Linked DNA regions of Homo sapiens: region 2 is linked to region 1. A link means that fine-mapping ties the variant in region 1 to the expression of a gene that starts in the linked region. Tissue or cell type: amygdala. Region 1 holds a variant in brackets; the other region holds the start of a gene. All regions are shown on one strand. Distances are between the middles of the regions.

Region 1 (4,780 bases):
AGACAGGGTCTCACTATGTTGCCCAGGCTGGTCCTGAACTCCTAGGCTCAAGCTATCCTCCCACCTCGCCCCAAAGTGCTGGGATTACAGGCATAAGCCACCACACTTGGCCAGTTTCAGCAACTTTTTTTTTTTTTTTTTTTTTTGAGACGGAGTCTTGCTCTGTCGCCCAGGCTAGAGTGCAGTGGCGCGATCTCGGCTCCCTGCAACCTCCGCCTCCCAGGTTCAAGCGATTCTCCTGCCTCAGCCTCCCAAGTAGCTGGGATTACAGGTGCCCGCCACTGCACCTAATTTTTGTATTTTTAGTAGAGACGGGGTTTCACCATCTTGGCCAGGCTGGTCTCGAACTCCTGACCTCATGACCCACTCGCCTCGGCCTCTCAAAGTGCGGGGATTACAAGTGTGAGCCACCATGCCTGGCCAAAGAAGGAAGGCTTCAGGAACTCTTAAGGGAAGACTCTTCAGGCTGGCAGGCCCCAGCACCCTCCCTCCAATAGAAGTCAGACAAGATTCACTCTGGTCCTCTCTGCTTGTCCTCTTTTCAGGGCAGCAAGATCTGCCCCACAGCAGTTTTCCTCCTGCTCTGTTACCTGCAGGGATGCAGTTAGTGTTCAAGTTACAGCAAAGAAAAAGCTGAGGACAGGAGAGGAGGAGGAAGATCTCCCAGTACTTCTGTCCCCCAAGTCCTCCCTGACTTGTCAGCCCCAGGCTGCTCTGGTGAATGCACCTTTTACTCCACGCTGTCAGCTCCAGTGCTTCATATACTCCTCTGTCCCTTGGCTATATTGAGATCCTGACGATGCCTACCAAGCTGCCTCTTATGTAGGATCCAGAACCAGTGGGATGAAAGAGCAGCAGGTAGGCTCCAAAAAGCTGATAGCACTGGGGGCTTCATGACCCATAGGACATGAGCTGGGACCCCATCATCTCCCTTCAGACTAGGGCACTTTCAGGGTCTCTCATATATAAACACACATACACACACATACACACCGCAAATGATGGGGAGGGGAGGTGGCCCCAGCATGTGGTGGATCACAGTCACTAAGTCTACTTACTTATTATTTATTTTTAAAATATATTTAAACAGCAGCAGTCACTTCCAAAATGCAAAAAAAATTACAATTTTTAGAATAAAATTATAATGTTTATAATGCGGGTCAGAAGAATTGAAGGTACAACAGAATCAAATCACGCAGCACTGGAGGCGGCTGGAGAAGCCAAAGCCCACTGGTCAGGGGTCCAAGCTGACAAGAAGTCCCAACCTGAGAGGTCTCCACACCCAAATCATACCCCTCAGCTTCCCATTGACAGAGCCAGTGTCCTCTGGGTTAGAGAAGGAGAAGCGGCAAGGAGCTGGCCCTCTGTGTGGGTGTCCCAAACCCAGTCCCCCCCATCAGCCAGGGACCTGCTAATCCACCTCCTCCATGTTGCTGTAGGTGGGGGCTGGCCGATCCACAGGGGGGGCGAAGCGTTCAGGGGCTGTCCGCGTGGGGGCCACCTCGGGGGCCTGGCCAGGGCCTAGTCCCTGCAACAGAATACGAGGACAGGGGTTGGGGGCTGCCCAGCATGCCGCCTGGCATCCCGGGGGTGCTGGCTTGGAGCCCTGGCACCCAAGGGAGGGTCCCAAGGCAGGCGCAGACAGCAGCGGCGTTGAGACAGAGAGACGAGATTGGGCCTGAATAGTCTGGTTTTATTAACACTTTTAAGTACAGGAAGTAGCTTGGGCAGGGCCAAGCCTGAGGCCAAGGGTCAGAGCAGCAGGATGAATGGACAGACAGCCAGATGGATACACACCCTAGGATACTCTGCCCCTGCAGGGGCCACAACCTCCCCACCCTCTCCCACCAGATGCATAAGCTGAGGCCCAAAGCCCAGAGGTGTTCCCCACAACAAAGGCAGGCATGGCCTGGGGCAGGCAGGTAGGCCAGCTCACAGCAGCTGCCTGCAGGCGAGCTCATCTCCAGCGACTCTGGGATACCAGAGGATAGAACACGTTGAGCACGAGGGCCACCAAAGCCGCCACGGTGCCCAGGACAAAGTACCGGAGGCAGCCCTCATCTGGTGTGGTAGGGCCACGTGGTAGGGGGCCCACCCAGTCTTGGGGCCCCCAGGGACCCAGGGGCCCAGACCCCTCAGGCACCGGCTCCTCCTCAGCCTCCAGCTCCTGCCAAATCCGGGAAGCCTAGGGTATGTGGAAACGGCCATCAGCACCCCGGGGG[T/G]GGGGAGGACCCAGTGTCCCTGAGACCCTTAGCCATGACAGTCCCACCTGGGGTGACTGGGGCTAACACCCTGCATTCTAGATCAAACAGCAAGGAGGAAGGCAGGCAGCCAACCTCAGGGCTGTCCAGAGTAAGAGCACAAGGGTAAGAGAATCTTGACAGCATTTTGGCCTACCCTAAACAGCTCTCAATCCACATGCAGCTCCGCATGGAGGTGGGAGGGGAGTTATCTGGTTAGTATTTCAGTCCAGGCCTCCCCAAAGGACACCGATTCATAGAGAACAGGACTGCCAATCCCAGAGCAATCTCCTTGCTCCTTCCCACCCATACCCAGATCCTGACCAGTCTTCTGCAAGGATTTCTCTAAGCTTGACAGAGAAGGCTCAAGAGAGGATGGAGCCAGAAAGGAGACGGCCAGTCCAGAAAAGAGATGTGCCTACGCCCACTAACTGGGCCTATGGCACACCATGTCACTAAAGAGAAGATCCTGAAGGCTCAGCAAAGACAGATGCTTACCTCAAAGAGTATAACAGCCACCAGAGGCCATGGCCAGCCCAAATAGGCCTTGTCTTGAGTGCACACTAGAACTCAGGGACATCACAAGTGAGGGTGTGTGGGCCAGCATGTGGGGAATGTGCAGAGGAAATCTAGGAGAGTGTCAGGTATAGTTCATTCACAGCATAGTGCCCAGTGAGGTTCAGAGCAGTTGCCTGACCTGTGCCAAGTAGGTGCCAATGTGCTTGCCAGTGGCAGCATGTTAGTGTACTTGTATGTTTGTTAGTGTCCCCAAGGCATGGGGATGCCTCTGGCTAAAGCTTTGATGTTAAGAGAACTCTGCAATTCTCATGAATCCCAAGGCTCAATGGGCCTGTGGCTGGAGGAGAGGAAGCTATATCCCCCAACCCGGCCCCAGTCTGTGAACTGTCCCCCAGTATTCTGTAAAGCCTCCCACATGCCTCACCTGGCTGGCAGCAGCCTCAGCTGCAGGGCCTAGGTCTGGGTGGTGCTCAGAGTGACCTGCCCTGGGGGGCCTCTCCACAGGAGAGTTCCGCCGGCGGTAGAAGAGTACATAGGCATAACGCGTCACAACCTGGCTCTCGTCTACCGTTGTCACTGTGCTGTCATCAAACAAGCGCCAGCCTACAGCAGGGTGGGAAGAGTGTGAACAAAGTCTGCACCACCACCCCTACCACCTATCCTGCTGGCTGTGTGTGCCCTCACCCACGTCACTGCGCTGACTGCTACGATCATTGGGCAGGCGTGCACAGGCAGTGTAGTGGCCACCAATCATGCCTCCATAGTGGTTGATGACAGCATATAGATCGTAGCTGGGCAGCTGCTCCTCTTTCTGACCAATGCAGAACTTGCTCAGGTCCAGGTTCCTGCAGGTCAGGTCCAGTCAGGGAGGGGTGAGACAGGCAACAGGCGCTCAGGATGCCCATCCTGGTCCTCACACCCCACCCACAGTTACCAAGGTCCACTGCTTACCTAACAGGGAACTCCACCAAGTCATTGATCTTGTCACGCCAGATAAAACTACGAAAGGAGAAGCGCTTGAGCTGCACGATGAGAACATTTGGCAGGCGCCATAGCAACAGCTGCTTGGAGGCCTCACGGTGCTGTTTGCACTGTGGGCAGTACCTGGTGGGGACAGAGATTGGGTCAGGACCAGCAAGTCTCTCTCTTCTCCATCCTGCCCCCTTATCTACTTGCTGCTCTGTTCTCACCAGGCCTCCTCGGGTGCCAGCACCTCAGGCCGTGTGAAGAGGTTGAGGCACTGGTCCAGGGTGAAGTGGCCGGCCCGGGCAGCCTCACCGGCAGAGCCTGGATCCTCAGCACATTCCAGCTCCTTGGAGGCTACCAACACAAACTCCTGCAAGCGCTCATTGTTCCGCCAGACGAGAGCCAGGCTACAGTCGTCACCCAGCTCCAGTGGGGTGTCTCCTGGAGATTCGCAGGGAGAGAGGTCATGCAGCTGTGGAGAACAGCCAGCTCAACCCACCCCATGGCTCCCACCCACAGCCTCAGACACCTTTGTCCTCTAGCCGCTGCTCTCGGTTGGATGAATCAATTTTATAGATGAAGAACTGGGGTGTGTGGGCATTCATAGCTTCACTTGGATGCTGGTACCCAGGCACAGCAGCTGTGTGAGAACATGATAATCAAAGCTTCCCTGCCCATCAGGGCCTCACCAGGCCCACCAGGCCCTAAACAACAGCCCCCTCCATCCTCCCTTATCCTCCTCCCCAGCTTCTAGAGCCTTTCACTGGATCTTACCTTCGGGTCGGGACACCCTCTCGCCAGCTGGCAAGGAGCCAACCTCAATGGGCCCACTGGCCAGCATCTCAGAAGAAATTCCACTGGTGCTGGGCACAGGACCCCGGTCAGGGGCTGCCCACACCCGGGGAAGCCCTGTGTCCCCCTCAGCCATAGGGGTCACCAGCTGGAGCTCAGGTGGCTGAATGGGGTCTCTCTCGCTGTCCCCAGCCTCCAGGGAACCTGTGGAGAGCAGTGTGGTGCAGCCAGGGCTCTGAGACTCCAAGGCCATGCGGCCTGGC
Region 2 (4,559 bases), 390 kb before region 1:
CCCAGGCCCTGCATAAAAAACAAACCAAACAAACAAAAAGCTAGTTTCTACAATTGTATTAACTCTAGTCAGTGTTCTTATCCATTTCATTTCTTTCTCTCTCTCTCTTTTTTTTTTTTTTTTTGTAGAGACAGGGTGTTGCTATGTTGCCCAGGTTGATCTTGAACTGCTGGGCTCAAGTGATTCTCCATTTGATTTCTAACAATGCCTGTGAATTCTAAAGTCACAAAGCAGGTAAATCTATCGAAATGACAATGTCAGACAAGACCACAGAAAATAGAAAAAAAATTTTAAATGACAGTTAACAGTTTAACTTTTTCTCAAAAAAAAAAAAAGTTACTAGGCCATCAATTTGCCTATTATGTCAAATGTGATAAAGTATTCATTTGGCCCTTTCTAACTCTGATAGTGGCTAAAGTTAAAACAACACCCTGAAGCTTCTCTTTAAATACTTAACACCCAAGTTACACGATGCAATTATACAAACCCCACAGCAACAACCTATATAAATAAGCATCTTAGTTCACTTAAAATATTACCTGGCTACAACTGCAAATACAGCAAACATTTTAAACACTAGAATTCAACAAAATTACTGTAATCATGGTCCTCTATTAAAAATATCATAGAACCGATGATCTACAACATTTTTGTTACCACGTTCCAAAGTGCCAGTACTTTTTCTTAAAACTATTCAAGATGATTTTTTGTTCTGTGTACATTCTGCTACGGAAATGTTTAATTCCAAGCAGTGACTAGTTCTGTTTTCCCTGGTATTTAAGAGCACTGGATTTTACTGGTTTCTACATTTTATTTTCACTCACTTTTCTGCTAGTGTAGCTTAGTTGATATATGAGAACGAATACAATCCTAAAATGAAATAAGCCATTAGGATGCAAAAGACAAAAGCGGTCTGTAATCAAACGTAAAGAGTGGAAATATCACTATAAAGGTGTCCTCTTATCCATTTAAAGGCATTTTTTCTATAATAAGGTTAAGTGTGTAGATTCCCTCATCGAACACCATCTGACGGGCCCAAATGGCATTCAACACTCAAAATGGCTGCACATCTGCCGACCCCAGGTAACAGTACCTGAGGCGCTGAGCTGACTCCCTATCCAAAGATCCGGGAAGACCCCTCCACCCGCCAAATATCTGGGGAGATCGTGGCCGCCAATGACCTGGGGAGACCCCTCAATGACACCGTAGATCTTGCGCTTCCCAAGACCCGGGGAGATCTCAATGACCAGGAAAGATCCTGCCCTCCCCCAAACCCGGGAGACCCCCTCCAATGACCGGGGAGGATGCTGGACCCCCAAAACCACGGAAATCCCTCCCCCAATGATCAGAAGAAAAACCCTCCTCCCAAATGACCCAGGGAAATCGAATCCACAGGGACCCCGGGAGATTTCCCCCACAATGACCACGGAAGAAGTCTTTCCCAAATAACCTGGGAGACTCCAATGATCAGAGATCCCGTTTCCCAGTAGCCTGAAAAAATCTCCCTCAAAGCTCCTCGGGCACTAGGGCCATAGGACGCGAGCTTTACCTGCCGCCTCAGCCGGGTTCCTCGGCGTTTCCGTCCTATTGTTTCTCTCGCACCAAAATGGCTGCGGCCAGGCCGAGCCCCGCCCCCTGCACCTCGCTCCCGGTGCCCCTCACTATTGGCTCGTCCTAGGAGCTGCGCACGCGGACTGGACAGCCTGAAAGGCGCTGTTGCTAGGGTGCCAGGATTCGCTGCAGCAGCTTCCGGAAAAGGCGGTGACTGGGGGCGGGGCCAGAGAGGGCGGAGCATTGTCCTCCGTCTGGGAGGGTGGGCCGGAGGTCTGACGGGCGGTTGGGTGGATAGACTAGCTGCGGGCCGATGGACAGCAGGATACCTGGGAAACAGATGGATTGACCAACAGTCTTGGTTTGTTCAGTAGTGAGCGATTTCGCAGGATGCAGGAATTTCAATGCTAACACAGAGACAGTCCACTACAAACTGGGAAGTTGGTCACTCTAGCAGATGGACAGAAGACTGGATGTGAATAGACGGAAAGAGGGACAAAAGAGTGCCTGTAGACGGTGGACAAAGAAATGGTTATAGATACAGACAGACAGATTATTAGATATGGAAGGGTGGACAGAGAAGTGGCCATAGAGTTTTCTGGGGACTGGTGGATGACCCAGTGCCCAACCCAGCTCCCACCAAGCACCACACCACAGGGCTTGTCTGAGGCTCATTTGTCTTGGGCCTGTGTTGGACAGAAGGGCTCTCACCTGAGTGAATGTCAGCATAGCTGTGAAAGGCAAAGGAGAGGGTTAGTGCCACTGAGAATGGGCAGAGCCTCCTACCTGATCTCTGCTCTTTCTGTAAAGGAGAACAATGTTGCAGCCCTGTGTACTGGGCATTTGCAAAGGTGTAAATTCACTCATACACTTTTTAATTCAACAAGTATTTATTAAGCACTTACACTCGGTATTGGAAATACAGCAGTGAACAAAAAAGGAAAATAAATAAATATCCCTGACCTTATAACAGTGGATAGGAGAGACTTCTGTGAGCAGCTCCTCTCACCTTAGCATGTGGTTTCCAGGGCTCCATGTCCTCCTGGTTTCCTCCAGTCTCACCAGTTTCTCATCTGTGTGTTTTCTCTTTGTCTACACTCACTCTTCCAAAATCTTATCCAGGCTCATGACTTCAAATGCCACCTACATGTCAATCACTCCTAAAAGTGTTTGTCCAGTCCAGACCCTTCCTGAGTGGCAGATTCACTAGTCCCACTGTCAACTAGACATCTGCACTCTGACTTCCAGTTGCTGGCATCTCAAACGCAACTTGTGCTACCCTAACACTGGCTCATCCGCCAAACCTACTTCACCCCACTTTCCCCAAATTGAGTGATAGCATCTCAGCCCTTCTTATTGCTCAAGTCAAACACCTCAAAGTACCCCTTGACTACTCTCTTTCCCATCTATATTCAGTGCACCAGGAAGGTCTGCTGTCTCCATCAGCATCATCTACCCAGAATGAAATCACTTCTTGCCACCTCCATACCTTTCACTGAGTCCAAACTGCCACCATTTCTCTTGAGTGCAATGTCACAGCTGCCTCCTGGTCTCCTCTTGCTGCCCCTGATGCCTTCAGTCTGTTCTGCACACATCAGCCTGTGAATACATGAGTCAGATCCTCCCATTCCCTGCTCAGAACCCTGGAGTACTTCCTCCCCAAGGGAAAACCAGAGACATCAGGACCTTCATAATTCCCTATCACCCCCCCGACTGTATCTCCCCGGCCAGCTTTTGGCCTTGCTGCTCAATCTCCCAGTGTTCCTCACACATCACACCCCATGCACTCTCCTGCACAGTGTATGAGTTATGGTTGTTCCCATGCCTGGATTGCACAGATTTCCAAAGAGCTGCACCCCAGCTCTCAGAGCCCCTCATTTCAGACTGTAACCTGCCCCACTCTGCCCCCAGCACTCAGTACCACCTTTATCCCCTCATCCTGGCTCTATATGTTTCCATAGCAGTTACCACCTTCTCAGAATTTTTTTTTTTTGAGACATAATCTTGCTCTGTCACCCAGGCTGCAGTGCTATGACATTGCAACCTCCGCTTCCAGGGTTGAAGCGATTCTCATGCCTCAGCCTCCCAAGTAGCTGGGATTACAGGCGTGTGCCACCACACCCGGCTAATTTTTCTATTCTTCAATAGAGACGGGGTTTCACCATGTTATCCAGGCCAGGCTGGTCTCAAACTCTTGGCCTCAAGTGATACACACTCCTTGACCTCCCAAAGTGCTGGGATAACAGGCATTAGGCACCGTACCCGGCCGCTTCATAGCAGTTACCACCTTGGGGCCGCCCTAGCATTAATTCACTCTTCCATTCCTTTCACAAGTGCTTATCAAGGTCTGACTTAGATTAGACACCAGGGATGCAGCGTGAATAAACACAGCAAGAATTCAAATGATTTATTTGTCCGGAGGTGGGTGAGAGGCAACAGACAGTAAAAGAACAAATAACATAATTATAGGCAGAGTGACTACAATGGAGAAAAGGAACCAAGCAAAAGTGCAGAGTATGGTGTTTATGTCTAAGGCAGCAGGAGAGGTAGATCTGAGAAGGGAACATCTGAGCTAAGATCAGCCCAAAGGCACTGGCTGAGCATGGAAAGATCTAGAGGAAGCCATTTCTGACAAAAGCACAGCAAGTACAAAGACCCCGAGGAAAGAAGAAGTTTGATATTTTGAGGGAATATGAAAAAGCCACTTGGGTCTAATGGAAGAAATAGCTCAGAACTTAAGGGAAAGATGCACAGAGCTGAAAACGATGAAGGAATAGACCACAGATCTGGGGGGCAAGTCCAAGAATTCTGATGTGCAGACAGCAGGAGTCCTAAAAGGAGAAAAAGGGACAGCTGAAATGGAGGCACCAGCTAGTCAAACTACAGAAGAAAACTTTCATGACATGAAGAAAACTCTGTGTCAGCCGGGTGCAGTGGCTCACACTTGTAATCCCAGCACTTTGGGAGGCTGAGGCAGGCAGATCACTTGAGGTTAGGAGTTTGAAACC

What was found. PIP is the estimated chance that this variant, and not a neighbour inherited with it, causes the effect.
Region 2: IP6K2 starts here. The variant in region 1 is fine-mapped to the expression of IP6K2 in amygdala (GTEx, PIP 0.97).

What each region holds. Positions count from the first base shown.
Region 1 is chr3:49,107,001-49,111,780 of GRCh38, forward strand. It overlaps USP19 (ubiquitin specific peptidase 19), which reads right to left. Exons shown (of 27, transcript NM_001199161.2): 21 at 4,500-4,780; 22 at 4,255-4,365; 23 at 3,950-4,166; 24 at 3,711-3,863; 25 at 3,444-3,604; 26 at 3,184-3,362; 27 at 1,050-1,528. The coding sequence ends at 1,412. Among named protein-coding and RNA genes, the nearest start is that of QARS1, 4.6 kb to the left of the region's middle. The variant T/G (reference allele first, on the strand shown) is at 2,223.
Region 2 is chr3:48,715,608-48,720,166 of GRCh38, forward strand. It overlaps IP6K2 (inositol hexakisphosphate kinase 2), which reads right to left and starts at 1,614. Exons shown (of 6, transcript NM_016291.4): 1 at 1,550-1,614.